Regions from separate parts of the Homo sapiens genome. Here region 1 is linked to region 2. The links come from fine-mapping of genetic effects on plasma protein levels. A gene starts in region 2. The other region holds a variant in brackets. All regions are shown on one strand. Distances are from middle to middle. Region 1 overlaps SNED1 (sushi, nidogen and EGF like domains 1). Region 2 holds the start of SNED1 (sushi, nidogen and EGF like domains 1).

What was found. PIP is the posterior inclusion probability: the model's chance that the variant is causal. The UK Biobank Pharma Proteomics Project read protein levels with antibody pairs (Olink). The fine-mapping took linkage between variants from a reference panel, not from the people measured, so its PIPs are less certain.
Region 1: its variant is fine-mapped to the plasma level of the SNED1 protein (UK Biobank, PIP above 0.99). The variant lies in the coding sequence of SNED1. If it changes the protein, the assay may bind it differently, which can mimic a change of level.

What each region holds. Positions count from the first base shown.
Region 1 is chr2:241,034,082-241,045,425 of GRCh38, reverse strand. SNED1 (sushi, nidogen and EGF like domains 1) reads right to left here. Exons shown (of 32, transcript NM_001080437.3): 4 at 10,696-10,858; 5 at 8,511-8,636; 6 at 8,073-8,186; 7 at 5,238-5,351; 8 at 5,013-5,126. All of the region lies in intron 1 of SNED1-AS1 (SNED1 antisense RNA 1), which reads left to right. It also overlaps a transcript of MTERF4 not described here. Among named protein-coding and RNA genes, the nearest start is that of SNED1-AS1, 24 kb to the left of the region's middle. RefSeq lists enhancers at 3,338-3,567, 4,018-4,067, 8,497-9,440, 9,441-10,382, 10,383-11,326. The variant C/T (reference allele first, on the strand shown) is at 10,830.
Region 2 is chr2:240,993,220-241,005,187 of GRCh38, reverse strand. SNED1 (sushi, nidogen and EGF like domains 1) reads right to left here and starts at 6,570. Exons shown (of 32, transcript NM_001080437.3): 1 at 6,138-6,570. The coding sequence starts at 6,350. It overlaps CROCC2 (ciliary rootlet coiled-coil, rootletin family member 2), which reads right to left. Exons shown (of 32, transcript NM_001351305.2): 32 at 11,877-11,968. RefSeq lists a silencer at 6,519-6,938.

The DNA of each region.
Region 1 (11,344 bases), 41 kb before region 2:
AATTGATCACTGTGGCTTTACAGTAAATCTTAATACTCAGTAGTGTGATTCCTCAAAATTTATTCTTCATCAAAATTGTTTTGGTTTTCTAAATTCTTTTTCTTGCCATATAAATTTTAGAAGCAGTTTGTCTACATTTACAAAAGATTCTGCTGAGACCTCTGTTGGAATCATGTTAAATCTATAAATCAATTTAGAGAGCACTGCCATATTTACTACGTTGAGTCTTCTAATCCATGAACATGGTATGTCTGTCCATTTACTTGATCTTGATTTCTTTCATCAGCACTTTGTAGTTTTTCAGCATGCAAATTCTCTAATGTTTTAGTAGATTTATACTAAAGTCTTTCAATTTGAGAGGAGCTATTATAAATGGTATTGTCAATACAATTTAGATCAGATTACACAGATTCCTTCAACTTGGGGGAGCTCAGGAGTTCATAAGTAACTTTATGGAGTTGCTGTCCCAAGATTCACCCTCCAGTTTCCCCAGTACTTTCCAGTTTTCTGGGGCTACCTTTTTCAGTCCTCTGGCAAAAACGCTGCGGCTTTTATTTCCCTACCTTGCCACTTTTATAATGATGGCATTCATGGCTGGGACCAAGTAATGGGATGACAGACAAAGGGAAAAACAACAGGAAAGGGAAAAACAATACCCAACCCCTTTGAAACCACAGCACCTCCAACTGGAGAGGAAGGTTTCTTCCTTCGCAGTTTAAGGGCACTTGAGGATTCCCCAACTTCTGCACTGTCAGCCCTGCTTCTTAAGCTGGACTAGAGGGCTTCTCCTGGAGCACTCTTTCTGTCCGTGTGGATGCCCACTTCTGGTTTTGAGGTGGCTTTGAGTCCTGGCTGGGGGGATACCAAAGCAAAAAACAAAAAATGGTAAACTCACCACTGGTTTGGTGGTACTTCGAAGCTTGGTCTTCTTCCCCAATCCACCTGCTACTATTTACTTTTCAGAGTCCTCTGACAGCTACTCCATGCATTCTGTCCAGGATTGTAGCTGTATTCAGTGGGGGAGAGACAGGGGTAGACTGTGCTTACTCTATCTTTTTCAGAACCAGAAACCCATTCTATTACTTTACAATTACCTGTGTCTTTATACTTAGAGTGGGTTCTTGTGACAGCATATAGTTGGGTATTGCTTTTCAATTCAATTTGACAATCTTTGCCTTTTATTTGTATGTTTAATCATTTTACATTTTAATGTAACTACCAATATGACTAGACTGAACCTATCATCTTGCTATCGGCTTTTACTTGTCCCACTTCTTTCTTTTTTTCCTCTCTTCCTGCCTTCTGGATTGAGTATTTTTAGGATTCAATTTCTATCTCCACAATTGGTTTATTAGCTGTAATTCTTTATTATTATTTTTCACTTGTTTTGGGTTTACAATGTATATCTTTTACTTACACAGCCTACCTTCAAACAGTATATACCACTTTATGTAATATAGGGACCTTACAATATTATACTTCCATTTCTTCTTATCTTTTACATTGGAGTTGGTAAACTATAACCCACAGACCAAATCTTGCCTGCCATCAATTTTTAAAAGTACAGTTTTATTGGAACACAGCCATACCTATTCATTTACATATTGTCTATGGCTGGCTGCTTTCACATTACAATGGTAGAGTTGAGTTGTGATAGAGACCATATGGCTCACAAAGCCAAAAGTATTTACTTTCTGGCCCTTTACAGAAAAAGTTTGCACAGCTTGGTTTATGTTATTGGAGTCATCTATTTTATTTCTGCATGTAAGTTTTATTATTTTAAAATTTTTCTTTAAAGGGATTAAAAAGTCTTCAACCCACATATTTATCATTTTTAACACTCTTCATTCTTTTGTGTAGATCCAGATTTTCCCTTGGTACCAGTTTTTTTTTGCTTCTGACTAAATAATTTCCTTTAACATTTTTTTGTAATGCAGGTATGCTGGTGATGAATGCTCTTCATTTTTGTTTGTGTAAAAAAGTCTTTATTTCAGCTTAACTTTTGAAATGTAGTTTTGCTGGTAATACAGTACACTAGGTTGATGGTTTTTTCTTTCAGTGCTTTGAAGGTGTTACTCCAGTGTCTCCTGGCTTGCATTGTTTTTGACGAGAAGTCTGTTTCATTCTTGTTTCGCTGTATGTAATGTGGCTTTTTCCTCTGGCTGTTTTTGAGGTTTTTTATCATTAGTTTTCAGCAATTTGATTATGGTATGGCTTTGCATGGTTTTCTTCATGCTTTTCTTGGAAATGTGGGTTTTAGTTTTCATCAAATGTGGAAAATGTTTGGGTATTATTTCTTCACATACTTTTTCTATAACACTCCTTTCCACACCCATCTCCATCCTCCTTCGCAGACTCCAAATACGTGGATCCCAGGCTGCTTAATATTGTTCTCCATCCTCCTTTGCAGACTGCACATACATGGATCCCAGGCTGCTTGATACTGTTCTTCATCCTCCTTCACAGACTCCAAATACGTGGATCCCAGGCTGCTTGATACTGTTCTCCATCCTCCTTCGCAGACTCCAGATACGTGGATCCTATTACCCTAATATCGTTCTGCAGGTTGCTGAAGATCTCTTCTTTTTCTTTTAGTCTTATTCTCTCTGTGATGCATATTGAATTGTTTCTGTTTCACTCTTCAGGTTCATTGATCTTTCCTTCTGCAATATCTAACCTGCTGTAAATACTATTCAGTGTATTTTAAAAACTCAGATATATTTTTCATTTCTACAAGTTTTTAAAAATACCTTCTACTTCTCATTAGGTTTTTTTCCCCTCAACAATCTTGATTATAGGAGCATATTCATAATAGATAATTAAACATTTGTATCTGCTAATTCTGTCATTTCTGGTGCCTGTTTCTATTGATCTATTTTTCTCCTGACTGTGAGTTATATGTTACTTCTTTGTAGACCTGATAATTTTTGACTGGGTATTTTGGAGTTCTGGATTCTGTTGTATTATTGATATACTCCTGTTGAGGAGTATAGGATTTTATTCTGGCACATGGCTCAATGACTTAGGATCAGTTTGATCCTTTTAAGCTTTCTTTAAGATCTGTTAGGGCAGGTCGACATTAGTCTTTAGTTCAGCACTACTAAAGTGACACCCCACTGAGGACTCTATGCAATAGACTCCCAGCCCTGTTTGAGCTCCAGGAAGTGTTTGACTTACTGCTTTCTAGTGGTTCTTTCCCCAGCCTTGCAGATTTCATCCTGAGCCTGATAATAATAAGCCAAAATTCAGGGAGGTCTCCTCTTGATCTCATGCTCCCTCCTGCCTCAGGAGCACCATCCTGTAGCCACTGAACTAGGATCTTTGTCTCCTCAATTCAAAGGGACTGCTGGACTCTCAGTTCCTCCTCCCAGCACAGTGGAGTGGAAACTGCCCCAGGCAGAATCTGGGGCAATTGTAGGGCTCACCTCATTTGATTCCCTTTTCTCAGGGGTGACAGGCTTGTGCTGTCTGTTGTCTAATGGCTGAAAAGGGTTTCACAGATTTTGTCTGTTTTTCTAGGTGTTGATGGTGAGAGGGAAATTCCAAGAGCAGTTAATTCTTGTTGGCCAGAAGCAGAAGACTAGAGACTCTTTTTTGTAGTGTCCAATTTGTGGCCCACTTCCTGTCAGACCTGATTAGACTGTCAGCATCTGCGCCTTGTAATACAGTCAATCAGTCATTACGTTAGCACCACCGTCAGTCTGTTGTTTCTTTCTTCTTCCTCTTTTGTTTTTTTTTAGACAGAGTCTCACTCATTCTGTTACCCAGGGTGGAGTGCAGTGGTGCGATCTCAGCTCACTGCAACCTCTGCCTCCCGGGTTCAAGCAATGCTCCAGCCTCAACCTCCCGAGTAGCTGGGATTACAGGCATGCAGCACCACGTCTGGCTAACTTTTGTATTTTTGGTACAGATGGGGTTTCACCACGTTGGCCAGGCTGGTCTTGAACTCCTGACCTCAAGTGATCCGCCCGCCTCAGCCTCCCAAAGTGCTGGGATTACAGGCATAAGCCACCACACCCGGCCAGTCTGTTTCTTATTATTCACTCTACTTGCATCATTATTCTGTAGAAAACACGGTTTATTTGCAAAAAATTTTTGAAACCACTTATCCGTTTCCTGACATGAATTTAGTGAAATACATTGATATTTAGATAACAATCTGGGCAAAGTGAGCTGTGACACGGAACAGTGACTTTAAAGCAGCCAAATAGGTGAGGCTGCCTCCTCCCGCTCCTGCCCCACCCTCCCCTCAGGACACACCCTGGCCTCCCATGCACTCGGCAAAGACTGATGGAGGGCCCATGACCCTCTGTGTCTTACGGGTAAAACAGAATTTCCTCCTGAATTTTTTAAACTAAAAATAACCTGAATAGTTTGTCTTTAGCATCTCCCTGGAGAGAAGCAGCACCTGGTGCGTCCACAGAAGTCGGCACAGTGGGTGAGCCTCTGGAGGCAGGTGCAACAATCAGACACGAAAGCCATTTTTATACTGTAGGCTGCAATCTCCAGTTGGCCTTTTAATTCCTCTAACAAGTCACAACTAGCAGTTAAACAACACAAAATAGAATAGAAAATAGTGAAAGGTCAGTTTTCTTTCTGATTCCCGTTACTTTCCCTTGTGTGCTGAGGGTTCTAGAGTAGGAGAGGAAGATGTTAAAAAAGTCAAGAGTCACCCAGGCTGGAAGAGGAGACTTGTGAACTTTGTCATCCCTCCTGGCATTTCACAGATGGAAACCAAGGCCCAGAGAGGGGAAGGGGTTGCTCAGCCTCACACAGCACCCTGGAGGCAGCATCCATCTTTTGCTTCCTATTTTCCCTGCAGTTGGTGGCTTAGGATCCAGGCTGAGCGGGAAGCGCTGGGGAGTGGGAAGGGGGCAGAGGCATCCTCCCACCCCAGAGACAGGTGTGAGGTGAGTCAGATGGCAAGGAAGGAAGGGGAAAGTGGCTATGGGGGTGTTCACGGCACAAAGCCACCATCAGCCATGGTGGCCTGCAGGCACTTGGCCAGTTACCTGTCTCACAGCGAAGTCCCTTGAAGGGCTCGGCACACAAGCAGGTGTAATTCCCCACTAGGTCAACACAAGAGCCTCCATTCAGGCAGGGGTCAGGGCTGCAGTCGTCCACATCTGAGGGGCAGCAGAGGTGCGGGCTTGGCTTGAGCCAGGCCACAACCACCCTGTGCCCAGCACCTGGCCACGGGCAGGAGCCCCTCTCCAATCCGAAGCCAGGCCACTCACCCATCTCGCAGGCTGCTCCGGTGTATCCGGCCTGGCACACACACACCGCAGAGCCATTCTCCACCTGGCACTGGCCACCATGTTGACACTCTTTGGTGTCACAGGGGGATTGGGCTAGAGTGAGGAGGTGTAGACAGGACGATGGACTCCCAGTTATGGTTACCTGAGGGGACAGAAACCCCTGGGACGTACACTGAGCCCCACCCCCAACTGGCTTACATTGCAGGGGGGCCTGGCAGGCAGGTTTCTGAGCGGGCGACAGGCAAGAAAGAGGCCTGGCCAGGCAGTCCTGACTGGCCACCCGAAGCTCTGTCTGAACTGGGTCTAATTCAGCAAACCTGGGATGGAGGGATGGGTGTGTATGCTGGGCAGGGGCAAATGGGGGTGCATGGAAATCACTCCCACTCTTGGGGGATGGTCCCTCCCTAGGTGGCTCTTATTCCAAGTGGACTGTGAGAAGAGCTGTGGTCAAGGATGCAGGCTGTGACTGAGCCTGGAAGGGTGTGCAGCACCCAGGGTGTAGGAGTGGCCCCTGGGGCGAGAGGCTGGGTGGGGCAGGCAGTGGCCTGTGCAGGAACGGCCAGGGCAAAGGGACTCTGGCCCCCAGTTACTGAGTGGGAGTGAGCTAGGGGAGCCCACCCTCTGCCCTCCCTCCTCACCGGATGCTGGCCCTCCTTGAGTCCAGAGCACCTGGCCCACACATCCCAGGTCTCTCCTTTGCCCTGGCCAGCAGAGCCAGACGCAGAGGAGAACCACATCCCCTGTCTTACTGACAGCTCATACCCAGAACAAACTCAGAAACAAGAGTGATAGCCAAAGCGTGTGTCCCTCCCTGGAGTCATGGGGGAATGGTGGGGCCCTCTCTTTGGCATAGGAAGGAGACAGGAGGGCCTGACTACTCCCCCAGGAGGTGTGAAAGCCCTTTGGTGGCTGATGGGACATGGTGATCCCTGTCTCCCTGACCCCAACTCCGCTAGGTGGAGGAGCATGCACACCCTAGCCTTTAGTTGCGGGCGCCCCTGCTGTTATGGGTTCTGGGGGCCAAGGTGGCTTCCAAGATCAGGGAGCCCCTGTGGGGGGTCGAGGCGGGAAGGCTTGTACCCAAGGCTTGTGCCACAGCTGCACTGAGAAAGTGAAGGCTCACGGTCCGAGGCCACACGTACAACTGACATGCTGCAGACCCAAGACCTGAACCAGCCTCCTGGCGCCAAGCCTCAAGCCCTCTTAGGGGACCTCACCAGGCTGCACATCACAGAGGGGCTCCTGGAGCCTGGGGCATAGCCGAGGAGCAGCCCATTCCTGGGAAGCTCTGCCCAGTCACCCTTGGGGACCCTCATCATAGGCCTGGGTCCTCCCGCAGCCAGGCCCCTGGCCAGCACCGCACAGGGAGAGCACTGAGCAAGAGGAAGGAGATCCTGCCAGCCTCCCTGGCCTTTACCAAGGGACAGACGCCTGCAGGGCTGAGTCTGCCACGGCACCAATGCCACAGAAGCCCGACTCCCACCCGTCTCACGTTGAGAGCACGTGGGCAAGCAGGGCAGGAGTTTCTGGATGAAGAAAGGCTCCTATGAATGGAGCTTGCTCCGACACTGGCTGTGGGAAGACAGTGGCAGGGCTCGGGGAGCAAGGGATAACTGGGGTCACTGTGCTGTCACCTATGTGTGATCTGTAAACACACTGGCAAGCCCATCTCGCCAGGTGGGAATTGTGCTTCACTGCTTTGGACCTTGAAGTCACATTTCCATTGCATTCCTGCAGAACTTCATTCTAATGTACTTTCAGGTGCAAAAGTCCCTTACTGCCATTCAACTATAGCTCTCTCCAATACCAATATGTGTAAACACAGGAAGGAAGTACTTTAAAAAACCTCCCATGACCATAAATATCTGATAAGAATTGTTTTTTTCTAGATTGAGATATTGATATAGTCACTATTTGAATGCATTGATCTAAACAATCTATTACATGTTTTTGTAAGCGACTGTCACACAGGACACGCACACCTGGCTGAGCTGGGTGGGGAGCAGCAGGTCACGGTGCTTTGATTTTAGGGGCTCCCTTTGCAAAGCTCCCTGAGCAGAGCCCTATGGTGAGATGGAGAGCAGGAATTGGGGGGGGGTCCACCTTTCTTTACCAGGTGGGTGAAGGGCATGGGTGAGGGGCCTAAAGAGGTGCCGGGGGAAGGGCAGTAAGTAGAGGCTGACTCTGATGACAACTGCTTCGAAAGAGCTGGGCTCTGAACTGGGAGGGCAAGCTGAGGTTTGGTAGCAGCAGTGAGGATGGAGAGGGACTCCAGGCCCCACCTAGGCTGTGAGACCCCCTTTCCCTGAAGGCAGGGGCAGGAGAGAAACAGCGTCCAGGAGCAGCCGCAGGGAGCGGCAGGGACCGTGTGGCTGTGCCCTTCCTGCCCCACAGCCAGCCCATCTGACCCCAGAAGCACTTCACGTTCCCCTCAAGCTGGTCCTGGGCTGAGAGGGGGTCTGACGGCCCCACCACATCCCCAGCGGGCTCCCATCCGGGCTCTGGTGCCTGTCTGACCCTGATCCTGGCCTGGTTTGGGACCTGGGCACTGGCCTGTTCTGAGGCCCCATCCCTGGTCCGAATGCCATGGTCTAGGAAGCCTGTGTGACTGGTCATGGCTCCTGCCCCCTACCCAGATATGGGCCTTTCCCTGGGCATCTGGGCTCCTCCACTCCTCGAGGGTGGCTTCTCTGGGCTGTCTACCTTGCAGCATGCACAGCTGCTGGACCTTCCAAGACCTCAGCCTTGTCCAGCTGTGTCTCCCGCTATCCTGCCCCCAGCAGGGCCCCGTGGGCCCCGGTGGGTTCCTCTTACCTGTCTCACAGGTGGGTCCCCCAAAGCCAGCCGGGCACTGGCAGCGGAAACTGTTGATGCCGTGAGTACAGGTCCCACCATTCTGACAGGGCTGGGAGGCACATTCGTTCACGTCTGAAACATGGGGCAGGCTGAGGCCTCAGCGGCGGGAACCCGGATGAGGAGTTTTCTCTAAGGGCTCGGGTTGGGCCGGGGACGGAGGAGGAGCAAGCCCGAGATTGGCTCAGAGAGGGCAGCAACTGCACCCGCCCATGGTGCTCACTCCAGGGGGCCATGGCCTTTGGTCCCCAGTGGTCCCCTAAGCAAGTCACCCACACCCTGGGGACAGAGACTCCTGACCTGGGACCCTGGGCGCCCAGGGCCACTGGCGGAGCCTACAGTGCTCCTCCTGAGCCCAGCGCAGCCAGCGGGTGGTCCCGCCCTGGGCCAGTCACTCACCCAGGTGGCACCTCCGCCCCGTGAAGCCCGAGAGGCAGGAGCAGGTGTAGGAGGGGTTGCCCGTGACGCAGTCGTCGATGCACTTGCCGCCGTTGAGGCAGGGGCGCAGGGCCAGGCACACGGACGCTGCAGACATAGGGAGGGGCTGGAGCCTCAGCCGCTGCCTCCGGACTCGGCAGGAGAGCCACTCCCATCCGCATCTCCCTTCCCTCCCCTGACCCAAAAGGTCGGCCTCTGGGTGCCCGGGTGACCGCAGCAAAGCAGCCAGGTTTCAGGTTTCACTTTAGGTCGGAGCAGGGGAGCAGGGGAGCAGGGGCGGTGCTGTTGGCGTGGCCTCTGGGGAGGTGGCTTCGTGTGGGGCGGACTCCCTGAAGCGACTCACACCAGCACCCCGTCCCCTCCATCCCTCTCAGCGCTGCCGTGGACAGGTCTAAAAACTGGCACACTCCGCCTCCCCTCCAGGGTTCCTGGCGTGGAAAACCCGAGGCTGGCACTCAGCCGTCATGTCAGCGTTTCTGGGACAAGGCGGGCCACGCAGGGGGTGTGGCTGGGGGCTGCAGGAGGGCTGTGTCCCTCGGATGCTGGGCGGCCGCTCTGGGCTCCCCGCCCCGTGAGCCCGGACTCCCTAAGCTCAGATGCAAGCGGGGGCCTGTTCGTGCCCCAGTGTGTGGGTAGCTCGGGCTCCTCGGGCCTCCTTCGTCGCGGCACCACCTGCAGCCCTCAGATGGGTCTTCCCGCCCTGCGACTGCATCTTTCCTCTTCCCATGAGCGCGCGGTGCTCTCCCCACCCCGTGGCGCGCCTCTACTCCCCAACCCCCACCCCGTGATGCGCCTCCACCCCCCACCCCCCACCCTGTGACGCACCTCCACCCCCCACCCACCCCGTGACGCACCTCCACCCCCCACTCCCCTCCCCGTGACGCGCCTCCGCCCCCCACCCCTACTACGCCCCACCTCCAACCCCGTGGCACACCTGCACCCCCCACCCCTCCACCCCGTGGCACGCCTGCACCCCCCACCCCATGGCACGCCCCCACCTCCCACACCCTCTACCCCTCACTCCCAACCCTGTGGCGCGCCTGCACCCCCCATCCCCACACCATCTACCCCTCATCCCCAACCCTGTGGCGCACCTGCATACCCCATCCCCCACCCCCACACTCTCTACCCCTCATCCCCCACCCCATGGCGCGCCTGCACCCCGCCTCCGCCCCGACAGTGGTGCGCGCGCATCTGCTACCCCTGTCGTGTTCTCTGGGGACTCAGTGTTGCGGAGATGCGGCCCCTCTCCCCTCTCGTAGCCTAGATGCTCGCGGCTGGGAGGCGAGTCTGGGGCAGGTCCCGGTGCGAGCCTCACTGCGGCCCCAGGCTTGGCAGGGCTTGTGATGCGCCGCCCTCAGTGGAGCGGATCAGTCGCTTGCCCTCGCCCCAAGTGTAAGCAGTGATTTCTGAAGGCTCCTTGGCTCCCAAGGCCGCACAGCAGCAGGGCTAAGGCTACCATCTATGGCTCTGCTGCCGCCCTGGCTGTTCCCACAAACCACGTGCCCACCCCTGGGAGGGACACCCACCCCGTCCGTTTGTGCACTGTGGGCTGGAAGGACCCCTGGAACTCCCCTGTAGACGTGATGCTTGGGTTTGTCAAGCAGTCACCAAATCCCACCAAGCAGCAAGCCCGCTGGCAAAAATGAGGACCTGGGTGGTAAGAGGACCTGCCTCATGGGTGGCCCTGAGGGTCAGAGACCACATGCTGCTCCTCCCCCAGCCCAGGCAGGAGGCTGGGTGGGAATAAGGGGAGAGTAGGGACCACATGGTCCCAGGGAGAGGTGTCCCTGGGCTCCTCCTCCCCTGAGGACCCAGAACTCTTTACCCCCGAAACCCGCAGTCTCCAGAGGGTTCCCTCCAACCCACAGCAGTGTGTGTGCGGGATCTTCTCTAGGGCACAGTCTCCAGAGGGTTCCCTCCAACCCAGAGCAGTGTGTGTGTGGGGTCTTCTCTAGGGGAAGCTGAGGCTGCAGGACCAGCCAGGCTTTCCTTAGTTTCACACGCCTGAGGTGGGCTGGGCTGGACACCCAAGTGCTCCTGCTCTCCCCGTCAGCATCCAGCCCCCTTCGTCTCCACCTCTCCTCTGCCATCAACCCCCTTCCTCAGCCCGCTCCCACCCCAAGCTGCTCCTCTGTCCTCTTACTTGTATGGCCGCAGCCCCCCACGCGCACCTGGGCATCATCGATTCTGAACGCCCAGCGCCCGGGCACACCCACGTTGGTGGTGGTCTCCACCTCGGCCATGTCTGCTGTGCGCGAGCCGGGGATACTGAAGTAA[C/T]GCTGCCCATCGCCTGCGTTGAAGCCAGCCTGGGGGTGGGGTGGGGGCAGAGTGAGGGAGGCCAGTTCCCCAGGTCTACAGAGGTGGGGGTTACCCTGCCCCCACCATGTTCCTGCCAGGGTCGGCAACCTCCCAGCCAGGTCCTGACCTCAGCCAACCGTTCCTGGGAGCCAAGGAGAGGGCTGGCCCTGGCTCCCCAGCCCAGTCCTCCGGCAGCTCACCTCTGGGCTCTTGGGCCTCCCCTGGGGCCAGGGGCAAGTATGAACCCAAGAGAAAGCAGGTGGCCAGGAGGTGAGTGGGGGTGCGCACAGCCCAAAGGCACTCTCGGGCCTGGGGAGCACTGACCCTGTGGCCATTGTCCTGTTTCATTCCCTCCACACCCGGGGTTTCCTGCCGGCTGTGGTCCCTTGTGTCACTGGCTAGGCCAGACTGCAGGGCACAAGGAGCAGAGGACATTTCTGTTGCTGTTGCAGCTGTTAAAGGGGACTGCAGGGGCAGGGCGGGGCAGGTCAGGG
Region 2 (11,968 bases):
AAACTAAACTAAAATTTAAAAAATAAAAATTTTTTAAAAAAAGAAATCTGGACCTACACAAAGAAATGAAGAAGACTGGAAATAGTAAATATGTGGGTAAATATAAAAGACTTTCTAATTTTAATCTCTTTAAATGATAATTGACTGTTTTAAAGAAAAAAAACATTGGCCAGGCATGGTGGCCTACATCTGTAATCCCAGCACTTTGTGAGGCTGAGGTGGGTGGATCACGAGATCAGGAGTTCAAGACCAGCCTGGCCAAGATGGTGAAACCCCGTCTCTACTAAAAATAAAAAAAACTAGCTAGGTGTGGTCGTGGGCGCCTATAATCCCAGCTATTCAGGGGGCTGAGGCACAGAATTGCTTGAACCTGGGAGGCAGAGGTTGCAGTGAGCCGAGATCACGCCACTGCACTCCAACCTGGCGACAGAGTGAGACTCCATCTCAAAAAAACAAACAAACAAAAAGTTAACAGTGCATTATTGGGTTTATAACATGTGTAAAGTAATATATATGACAACAATAGCATGAGGGCCAGAAGGAAAATGGATGTATGCTGTTATAAGATTATTATATCATACTTGAAAGAGTATAATATTATTTGAAGGTAAACTATGTTAAAAATGTGTTTTAAATCTAGAATAATCACAAAAAAATAAAATCAGAGGTGTAGGTAATAAGCCAATAGTATAGATAATATGAAATTATTTTTAAAAATCCAAAAGAAGAAACTATAGAGAACAGATGTAACAAATAGGAAGATGATAGGTTAAAATTCAACCATATTGATAATTACATTAAATGTAAATGGTCTAAAACACTCTAATTAAAAGGAAGAGATTTGTCAGGCTGGATTAAAAAAAATCAGTACTACACTTCTTTTTTTTAGCATTTACAAGAAAGACAATCAAGGCCACAGTCATTAAGGTGTGGTAAGGGTTTTGCTGAAGATTTCACAGGAAGCCAGAACAAGAAGCCACAACAAATGCTCAGACTGCAGTTTTATCAGTGTTGTGCCCACTACCTATATACATCTCCTTTCTTCATGGCTCCCCTGGTGGGATGTGGGGATCATTTTGTGCCTCAAGCAGAGGCCAGCCTCACCCCCAGGCTCATCCCCACTCCAGGATCTTCCCCTCCATACATGCATCAGCTTCTCTCCTTCCTCACATAGGACAGCCTGGCCCTGTCCAGCCCAGGGGCTTCCAGCCCTATTCCAGCTCACTCAGCCAAGAAAGGGCTCATCAGAAACCAGAGATGTTAGAAGGCAGAGGGCAGTATAAATGATAACCAACATTTTTTTGGTCACCTTTACAAATTGCTGCTCCTGTGTGCAGCCTTATGGCTTCTCGTGGCCCATCACACACAGAAGTGTCACAGATAACACTTCATGTCAGTATCACACAAACTGACCTGTCTTCCCTGTGAGTCTCTTCTCTAAGCAGGTCACCTGCAGAGGTGGGGCAGTGCAGACAGAGACTTTCCTTATGGGGCCCAGCATGCAGCCAGGACCCCCTACCACACTACCATGTTCCAACAGCTGTGCCTGTGCCATGGGTCAGGCCAGTCCTGGGAGGGAGTCGGCTGTGGGCTGAGGCTGAAGTGTGCAGGTCCTGCATCTCTGTGTGGAAAAGCTGACTCCCAGGCTAAGGCTCACCCTGTCAGGGAAGGTGGGACTGCTTCTGCTTTGGGGAACACACGGTGCAGAAATGTGCTGGTGGCCAAGACCATGAGCCCACCATGTGGATGTGGCACAGGAGGACTTACTGCTCAGGGTGCAGGCATCTTGCTGCATGCATCCTCTGGCCTCAGCAGGGGTGGAAGAGAGAGTCCTTCACCAGGGCACCACCACCACTGCAGCCCCAGGCTGTCGTCTGAGGCCTATTCTGAGCCCAACACCAGAATGGTGGCATGAGGATGGATGTGGTCCCTGCCTTCATGGGGTGCACATCCCAACACCTCCCAAACAAGAAAACTAAGGAGCAACCCAGCTGAGGTCAGAACCAACAAGCTGCAGTGAGCACAGAGGGTGGGGCTGGGGGAGTGCCTGAGCGGGGGGCCCGGGGGAGGGCGGAGGGGGGCAGGGAAGCGTAGCGGGGATTCTGGCGAGGAGAGACAGGATCCCACTGGTGTTTTGTATGGCTCCCTTGGTCACTCTGCACAGAGGAGGGCAGGCTGGAGGGAAAGGCCAAGAGCTGGAGGTCAGCAAGGGGGTGCTGCAGGTGTCCAGGCAAGTGGGGATGGACAGCTGGGAAGTGGTCCAAGTAGAGAGGCAGGCGGAGCTGCTGCTGACGTGGAGGGTGAGGGAGAGGAGGGAGGCATTGGGGAGGCTCTCAGGGGTTTATTCATGGAGATGGGTGGGCGCCAGGGAGGAAGCAGGACTTCTGTTTGGGTCCCACTGAGTTTGGGGTGGCACAGTAAGAGGCAGCTGGACGCAGGAGTCTGAAGGCCCCTGAATCTGCATTCTGAGCCTCGGTTTCCTCATCTGCACTGGGCATGACGTCCTGCTCCATCCTCTCAGGGGCTGCCTGTGAGGTCCAGGCAGATCACAGCTGTCCTGGGCTCATGGCCTTGACCTGGAGTCATCAGGCTCTCTCACTCCAGCATCCTCCTCGACTCCAGCCCCATTCCACTTCCCCAGGATCCCCTTCCATCTGCTTCCGTCACACCCAGGCAGCAGCAAGAAGGGCATGCTGATGAGGGGCAGGACCACCTTGGCCAAGCCCATAGCAGGGGGTGGGCCAGCCCGGGAACCTCAGTGAATAGGGCAGCCAAGGGGAAGCCCAGGACCCTCCTCCCAGCCAAGGGGCTCCTGCATTTGCTGGGGTGTTCCATGAGCTCAGAAGAGAGCAGAGATGGCAGTGATTTCTCCCCACATGTCTGCTCCCAGATCCACTCATGCGCAGGCCTCGGTCCCACTGAGACAGTCCCTGTGGGTCAGGGTGGATTTTCCAGATGGCTTGGAGCTGGCGACCACACAACCGTGACAGTGATGGGGTGTGTCACAGGTATGACCTGATGGGGGAGCTTCACCACACAGATGGGGAGACAGAGGCTCAGGGAGGAAATGACCAGGCAAAGGTCACAGGCTGCATGTGAACTCCCACACCAGAGCAGCTGCCCTGGGCTCCGTGTTCTGGGAGGGGTAGGGCCGGGACTGTGCCTGGATGGTAATGTTGTGCAGAGCCAGAGCCAGCAGACTTGCGGTGTGGCACGAAGCCTCAGGGCACAGAGTGGGGGTTTAGCCAGCACCAGCGAGGGTCAGTCTGACTGTCCACATTCCTCCTTCTTGCCTGCGGGCTCTGCAGGGCACCACCCACTCTTGACCCTCAAATCCTCCCTGCCTCTGCTCAGGGCTCTGTCGGGGGTCCTGATGCCAAAGAAACTGAGATCCTCCCATGGCCCAGAGACCATGCTGTGGATGGGGGCAGTGCTTGGAGCCAGGAGCTTCAGTGTAGGGGGCACCAGGAAGATTTCGTCTCTCATTCCCTGCACCTGCCCCTAGGAAACCACTCCACCTGCATAAGCCCCACAGACCGCGGCAAGCTCCGTCTTAATGCAGACACTGGCAGTTCCTGCATGGCAGGATAGCGGCAGCATGCCACACTCCTCAGCACGCCACACTCCTCGGCGCGCCACGCTCCTCGGCTGCATTATCTTTGTCTGTGTGTAGAACCTTAGCAATAAAATGCACTTTCAACACTTTTCAGAGCCTTACGACTTACCACACACATACAGCTACTATGACATGAGAAAGAAGCAAAACAATGGGTCCCTTCTGGAAAGGGGGCCACTCCATGTGTGGCAGAGCTGTCTTGCTAGGGCAGTAATCCATGTGCTATTTCTGATGAAGACAGAAGAAGCACCCATCTCATGCAAGAGCACTTCTAATTTCTACCTGTGACTTGCAGGCAGTGTCAGAGGGAGGCACATTCATTCATTCAGACAACAAGCCTACTCTTGGTCAAGCGACAGGCTGGGGGCGGAGGAGCGCAGAGGTCACTGCAGTGGGATGGGGGCTGGAGGGTCCTGGCTGGGCCTGACATGGGAGTCTGAGTCCAGGGCCAGCAGACACGAGGCCCCTATAGACTGGAGCTGGACAAGGGCCAGAGCCAGGGGCCTCAGAAGAGGGTCCGCTCGGCCTGGGTGGGCGTGGGAGGCCCCAGGCAGGTCCACTTCCTTCAGAACAAATGCCTCCCTTCTTTCCACCTGGCTTCAGCCCTAACCTGCTGCCAAGCACCCCTTTCTCTCTCCCTGCTTGACCACAGAGTCCGCACAGTTACTTCAGGCAAGGTGTCCTGGGCAACGCAGCCTCAAGCCTCCTGCTGAGCAAACAGAAAGGTGAAGTGCACTGCAGGCACTGTGTCCACATCGGCAAATGGTTTTCAAATAATATCTTTGTTTCAGGAAAAAGCTCCGATGGAGATAAATGTTTTGTTAGCAGCCAGAAGGTTCATTTCTGACGAAACCCTAGTTCTCCTAGCAGATCTTCCCACGTTAGAGCTGTTTCCCCTAGTTGCTCTGGCAAGGGCAGATGTTTTTGGTGAGGCTGTTAAGTGGGTTAACCATTTTAATAATATTTTCACCTGTGACTGTGAGTGGGAAAGCTGAGCCTGGCCCAAATGCTTAAGGAGCCTCTTGAGTTCTGTTCGGATGGTGCCAATGTGAGTGTCCCATACCTCAAGTGGACAGGCCTCCTCCAGCTCGGGCCAACGCTGAGCACCATTCTGTCCTACCCACTTCGTACTTCCAGGAGTCAGTCCCGTTCCTCTGTCCAAGTCCCGGTCCAGAGGGACTTTCAGGGGGTAGCACCGACAGCATGGCTGCCCCTCCCACCAGTCAGGTCACCCAGTGCTGCCACCGAGGTGGGGAGGCCTTCCTGAGCAGGTGTGGAAAACGCAGTGGGCGCTGTGGATGGTGTTGGCAGTTGTGGGGTGGGAGGCGCACTAGAGGGCATGTGGTGGAGGAGGCCCTGTGGATGGAGGTGGGGAGGGATGATGACAACCATGCAGAGGATGTGGATGGTGACGACGGGAAGCTGGGGACCATGGGGAAGGTGGTGGTGGAGGCAGTGCTGCTGGTGGTGGGGTTGAAGGAGGTGGTGTTGACGGAGGAGTTGGCAGTACAGGTGGTGTTACTCCGGGCAGCACAGATGGCAGAGGCGATGTGGCTGGCAGTGGGTTGAGGCTGGAGGTGGGCGAGGGTATGAGAGGGCTGATGGTGGAGGTGGCCGTGGTGACGGAGCTGGAGGGGACTCTACTTGAGGCTGGCCCAGCAGTTTTCTAGATATGATCTGGGGTGTTTCAGGGAACCACCAGGTACCAGTGCACCGTGGCCTACTCAGGGCGAGTGCTCCATGCAGTTACCAGGTGCATTTCATTCCCTGGGCTGCCATAAGGGCTTGGCCTGGGGTCACACTCTGGGAGCCATGGAGACAGAACCGGCACTCGGGCCTGTTCCTTCAGCTGAGCTGAGCCTGCTGTCATGAGTCCCTGGCCCCAGGAGTCCCACTGGGAGTCCTGTTTGGAGAGTCTGAGCCTGAGCGGCCAGCCCCCAGACTGCGGAGAGGACGGCAGGGAGGGGCAAGCCTGTTGCTAGCCCGCCTAGGAGGGTCAGCGAAGAAGCAGGCCCTGCCCTGAGCGCCTGGGCAAGGGGTCCAGCCTCCTGGCTCTGGGCCGCACTGGCGTCCACGGGGGGCGGGGCTGAAATGGCCCAAGGAGGGGCTGCAACCTTCGCAGGCCCGGCGCCCCACTTGGGAAACTGAGGCCCGGGAAGCCCGTGCCCACGGCCACATTGCCATGTGTGAAAACCAGGGCAGTACCAGGACCCCTGCTCTCCCCTGGGAATCAGGCGCCGGGAAGACGCGCTCGGCAGGTCTGGCAGGGGCCGGGGCGCCGCGCTCCACTCGCCCCCGCCTCGGTGCCCGGCGGCTGCCGCCCCCGCCCCGCCCGCGCGCCTCTCCCGCGGGCCGCTGTCCGGCCTTGGCCGCCGAGGAGGAAGCGCTGTCCTCATTCCACCTCGGGCCGCCCCGGTGCCAAGTGGCTGGCGGCGGCGGCGGGAGTCCGGGCCCGGCGGGCAGCGGCCGGGGCGCAGCTCCCTCCCCTCCCGGGCGCCCCGCGAGCCCGGGGGTTACTCACGTAGAGTCCGGAGTGCTCGGCACCGAAGAACGGGAAGGGCACCGAGAGCGGCCGCAGCCCCGAGCCGCCGTCGTCCTGCTTGGGGGTGACGGCGTCGCCGCGCTCGGCGCCGAACGGGTAGAAGTCGGCAAGGGCCACCGCGCCGCGCACCCCGCGCGCCCCAAGCCCCAGGGCCGCGGCCACCAGCAGCGCCCAGGCGACGCCGTGCCGCATCGCGGAGGTGTGCGGGCGGGACGGGGCGCTGGCGGAGCAGGGCGCTGGGGGACTAGGCTGCGCGCGGGGGTGGCCGGCAGGGCCAGGCGGGGTGCGGGGAGCGCGGGCGCGCCCGCTGGCCGCGCCGTCGGGGGCTCCGCGTCCCGCGCCCGTTCGGCCGGGCCGCGCTCTCGCCGCAGCTCCGCAGAGGAAAGCGCCGGGCGGGACCGCGTTCGGGGCCAGCCCCGCCCCTGGGGCCACGATTTAAATATCCAGCCCGGCGGTCACTCGGGGGGGCGGGGCCATGCAAATCGGGCGTCTCTTAAAGCGCCAGGCCCCGTGGGAGGGCGCGGGCGCGCGGGGAGCTCAGTCCCCTGGCGTGGGCACAGGCAAGGTGAGGGCTCTGCGGGCGCGCGCCCTGTGGTGGGGCCATGCTCCGCCCTGGGTCCCTACCCTGGTGGAGGCGCCTGGGCCCTCAGTGCCGTCCTGGGACAGACCTGTGTCCCTAAGGCCTGAGACGCTGGGCCCGCCCTGAAGGCGTGTCATCACGCGGGGGGCGGGAGGGGACCCTGGCCAGGCAGTGCCTGAATGAACCCGTTCCGTGCTGCCCCCTTCCCAGCCCTGAGCATGGGGACGCCAGGCTTCCAGCCACAGGGGCAGACTAACCCCGGAGCCCACTCCCTGCCTGGGTCTGTGTGAGGAAGAGCCCGGGCCGGAGACTAGGAGGCATGGAACAAAGTGTTTGCATCTGCGTGGCCGCATCAGGAGAAATTCCTGGGAGGCTCGGGACCTCGGGGCGACCCCTGGGTAAAGCAAACCCTCCGTGGGGAAGACTGACCCACTCAGGCCCTGGGGGCAAGTGCGTGCATGACACCGGCCTTGGCAGGTGGGGGCAGGACTCTGAGTCCCAGTATTTGAATTCAGGGTCCCCACCCTGTGGCCTGCCAGCCCTGCCCCCTGTCTCTTGGGCTGCTGGCCTGGGCTGCCTGTCTGTCCTTCCTCAGGGCCTCAGCCGGGACCACCTCTATGTCCCCAGGCCCATGGCAGGGTCTGATTCCTGGAACTCACCCGGCCCACCGTGGTCTCTTCTCTTAGATCCTGGTGTTGGGTGGTGTTGGCTGCGTGCCACACTGGGGCCCCCAAAGATAAGAGTGCACCCCTCGAAGACAAGCAGGAAAGGCCGGGCTGATGGTAACTGCATCTACCACTGAGGTGCTGGGTGGTTTTTTGTTTGTCTTTGCGTTTGTATCTTCTGAAATATCTCAAGTGAGCACGTGTTGTTTTTCAGTGAGAGCCAGGCACAGTCAATGTTATTTTTAAGAAGCAGCGGAGGGTTCTCTGCGTGTGACTGGGTGTTGCCGGTTCTCACAGATCCTGCACTTGGTGTTTTCACTCAGAGGTTCATGACCCTTTAGACTTGGTGTCAGGGCCGGGTGCAGAATTGTTAAGGAGGAGCTGACCCTGCACTGGCACCTCCTGAAAGCTTGCCCCTGGCGCCTCTCCCACCCTGCATGGGGTGGCAATTCTGTTTGCAGAGAGGCAAACTGGGCCTGGGAGGGGAAGGGCTCTGTCCCGCAGTTAGCCCTTAGGTCACCGTCCCAGCTTTCAGAGCTCCAGGACAGCAGCACAGCCATGGTTCCAGGGCCAGAAAGGTCAAGGCCTCCTGTCTTTGGAGGGAGGCACCAGAGAGGGCGTGGAACTGTAGAATCCCTACTTGAGGCCGGCTCTCGGTGAGAGCCTGGCAAGGAGAGACATGTCTCCACGCACATGCACACACGTCCACGCACACATGCATACTTATTCACATGCACGGAGGCAGCATATGCCCATACGTGGGGCCTCAAGAACATGCTTTAACCCCTTCCTCAGCCCAGCCCTGGCCTCCCTGGTCAGGGAGGGCTGCTCCCACCTCTGGCTGGCACAGGCCGTGGAGTCAGGACAAGGCCCCATGTAGCAGCGTTGGGAACAGAGCTGCCAGGCGTCACCGTGGCGGGAATCAGGGAGAACGCTTTTCTATTTGTCTTTTTTCTAGAAAAACCTGGCAGCCCTCTACCCTCTTTTCAGTGCATTTGGGGCCTGGCTGGAAGGCCCCTCCGGTGAGTTTGCGAAGGTGGGAGGCGGCAGTGCCAACCCCAGGGCAGGATTTCTCCGCTGAAGAGGTGTTGTCATGGGGACGTGAGGCTTTGACCCCCACTAGGGCTGGCCCACCTCCTGCCCTGTCCCTACTACCCATCCACTTCCCACCACATGCTCCTGCTCTGCTCTCAGAGCCCAGCCTGGGGTGCTGCCTCCCAGCCAGCTGCCCAGGCCAGGCGCCCTTCTCCCCACTGCTGACCTTCTCTTGAGCACACAAGACAGGGACCTGGGTAACAACCCATTTCTGGGCTGGGTTTGGGTCAACTTGGGGGCAGGGCCGCCCAGGGCACCTTGGGGCACACAGTGGCACTCAGTGGCTGCACCGAGTGGAGGCCTGTTTCTTCAGGCGGGTGGGCTGGTGGGCCTCACGGGGGTCGCTGAGCAGTGCTGGAAACGCTCAGGCCCGTCCTCGTCCCAGAGAGTCAGAGCTCATGGGCCTGGGGCGTGGCTGGCAGTGGGCCAGACCCTGCTCATGGCCCAGAGAGGCCACACTTCCTCGGGCCTGTACCCTGCTGACCAGCCTCGGCCTGCACCCTGTGCAGATTTTCAGCCGGGCCCGGGGAGCTGGGGGTTAACAAAAGGCCCCGCTGCTGCTGGGCATTACATTTCATTAAAAAAAAAAAAAACAAAAAAAAAACAACACAACTCTGCAGGCAAAAAAGAGAAAAAAAAATGTTTTTCTCAGGTGCTAAAAATATTATCAGGAAATACTTTTCAGCAATGTGCTGTTTTAGGCTCCCCTCTGGACTCAAGGGCGCCTTTGTCTCTGCCACAGAAAATCCACATTTATCAAAACCAAAATTGTTTTATCAAGCAGGCTCATGTTCTGTGGCCAGGAAACCCGAGCCTCCCCAACCGGCCTGTGACATTTTAATTTAGGGCCTGAGCGTGTGTGCAATTTAGATGGGGTGCCCCGGGAGCTGCCCTCAGGATGCCCCAGGACTCGGGGCTCCACGCAGGCCAAGGTGGGGGTGCCCTCCCCAACCTGCACCTGGTTGGCTGGGCCTGTTTGGTCTTCACAGGGTGGAAGATCCTGGGGGTTCAGGCCTGAGCTGCCAGGGGCAGGGGCTGGCTGGCTGTAGCCCACCCTAACTTTCTCTCCTTCTCTCCCAGAAGTGGCAGGTGGAGTGCAGGTCCCCTGCCCCAGAAGCGCTGATCCCAAGTAAACCTCCACATGCTCCGGAATGAGGCCAGGAGGTCACAGGGACCAAGGGCCGCTCCACCTGCTCACCTGGTCACTGTCCTGTGTGGCTGGTTGGGGTCTTGGTGCAGTTGGCCCTGAGGGAGTGTGGGGGCCATGCAGCCTGCCCTGTACCTCCTCTTCTCATGCACACGGAGCCGCACACACATTGACTCCCATGACGGGACTTCTGTGGTTGCTCTTAGGGAAACGATGGGACTGGGGTTCAACACTTCCTTCCCAGGATGTTCACTGCTGCGTGGGCTCAGGCATCGGCTCTCCCTGTCCTGGGGATGACGAGACCCTGCCTCCCGTTGAGAGCCTTGTCCATCTCCTGAGTGCCCAAGACAGGACAGAGCCCCATTCTCTGTGGGCTCCAGGATGGCAGGGACAGCCAGCAGTGGAGGGACACTCAGGCCCAGGGTCCTCCGATGCCCCGGAGCTTCCGCAGCAAAAAAACCATGCTCTGAGACGTTTTTAGTGATTCGGGAAAACTCTAACGGTATTGTGTCAAGCAAAAGTTTTAAAAAATAGTACTCTGAGTAGCATCCACGCTATGGCCTCAACCGTCCTAAGCACACGTGTGCTAGAAAAAGGGAGAGTTGGGTGTCACCTCGGGGCTCTGCAGGTCACAGATTATGGTGGTGGTTACATTCTCCTTTCTATGTTTCCCTGCTAACATTTTTTGCAATTAATTTGAAAAGTATGAATGTTTTGGAAGCCCAGATAAACAATGCCCTTGGTTCCAGCTGGCCGGCTTCCTGCCCCGGCTTCAGCCAACCAAAGCTTGTGCTTCCCTCAACCTGGGGTGCTTCAGAGGGCTGGCCTGTCCTTGGGTGCCGCCGTCTGCGTTCAACATGGCCCCTCCTCCAGTGCCCCCTCCCCAGGGGGCCTTCCTCTCCCATTTGTCCCCTCCCTGTGTTGGTCTGCAACCCCTGGATGCCTGCAAAGGGTGCTGCCCCCGGACCCAGGCACCTGAGGGCCTGTCAGAGCGTCGGAGCTTCCTGGCCAGAGGCTGGATGGGACCCTCCAACAGCCCCTGCGTGCCCCACATTCCTCGGCGAGCCTCAAGGGTGGCAGGAATCCGAAGGGATTTTGTGTTCTGTCTCAGACAGGAGCTGGGCCCCTGCCTGCATCCCTGCCTTGTGTGGGGGAGGGTCTCCTGGCTTTCGGAAACCTCAGGCACATTTATCACCTCTGCCCACCGGAGAGGGCAGGCAGAGGAAGAGCCAGACCATGGAGGCCTCCAAGGTCGCAAGCGTATGTGTGGCTCCAGCTCCATGAGGTGGTTCTGGGGGTCCATCCCCTGCAGGGACAGGCCTGAGAGCCACCTCTGAGTTTTCACTGACACCCAGACTCTCTGTGGGTTCTAGAGGTAGACCCTGAGAGTACCCTCCCCTTGGGAACATCACGGATCTGCGCCGCCTCCACCAGGCTGGCCTCAGGGGCTGCTCCCTCGAGTACCCTGGCCCTGCTGGACCGTGGCTGGGGATGGCAGCAAGGAGATGGACATGGCACTCCCAGAGCCGTGGCTGCTGCAGGTGACAGTGCCTCCACCGTTAGCTGAGTGCTTCTGGCCTCAGCCTGGGCGATACTTCACGTAGGACACACCATGGCCCTCTGGGGCTGGGGTCACCCCACTTTATAGACAGGGAAACCAAAACCTAAAGAATCTGTCCAGGGTTGGGTTGCACAGCTGGTGGGGGCACAGCTGGGACCCCCGTGCAGGCAGGCCTGGGCTGGAGGCCACGCATGGTCTTTTCCCCTTGACTCTGGGGAGTGCGTGGGAAGGGGTCCAGCCCTTTCTTCCCTTGGCCTTGCCTCCATGAAGGGGCAGGGGGACCCCAGCATCTGGGGCATATCCTCTGGTTAACACGGCTCTGCCTGCCCCCTCACTGGGCAGATGGGTCTGGGGCGAGGCCGGTGGAGGGGGAGCCCTGGCCTGGGCTGTCGGGTCCCTGGGCCTGACCCCTCCTGTCGACCTGGTGCAGACTTGTCCCAAAGCAAGGCTTCCTCCTCATCTGCAAACCAGGTGCTCAAAGGGCTGCTGCGAGAACAGAGGGAGAGCTCTCCAAACCCCAGCACGGTTCTCAGTCATCATGAGACCGGAACACAGAGGCCCACACACGACCGCTGGACATGTTTAAGAAAATGCCAATGTATTTCCACTAGAAAAATCCTCTTTTCCTAAATACATGTCTCTATGTTGAATAAGTTAAAATAGCATCTCCTACGCTGATTCAACTATTTATTAAAATTCAAAATTCGGAGGCCCCCACATGCATTTCAAATGTTCCCCATGAGCAGCCAGGGCAAGGAGGGT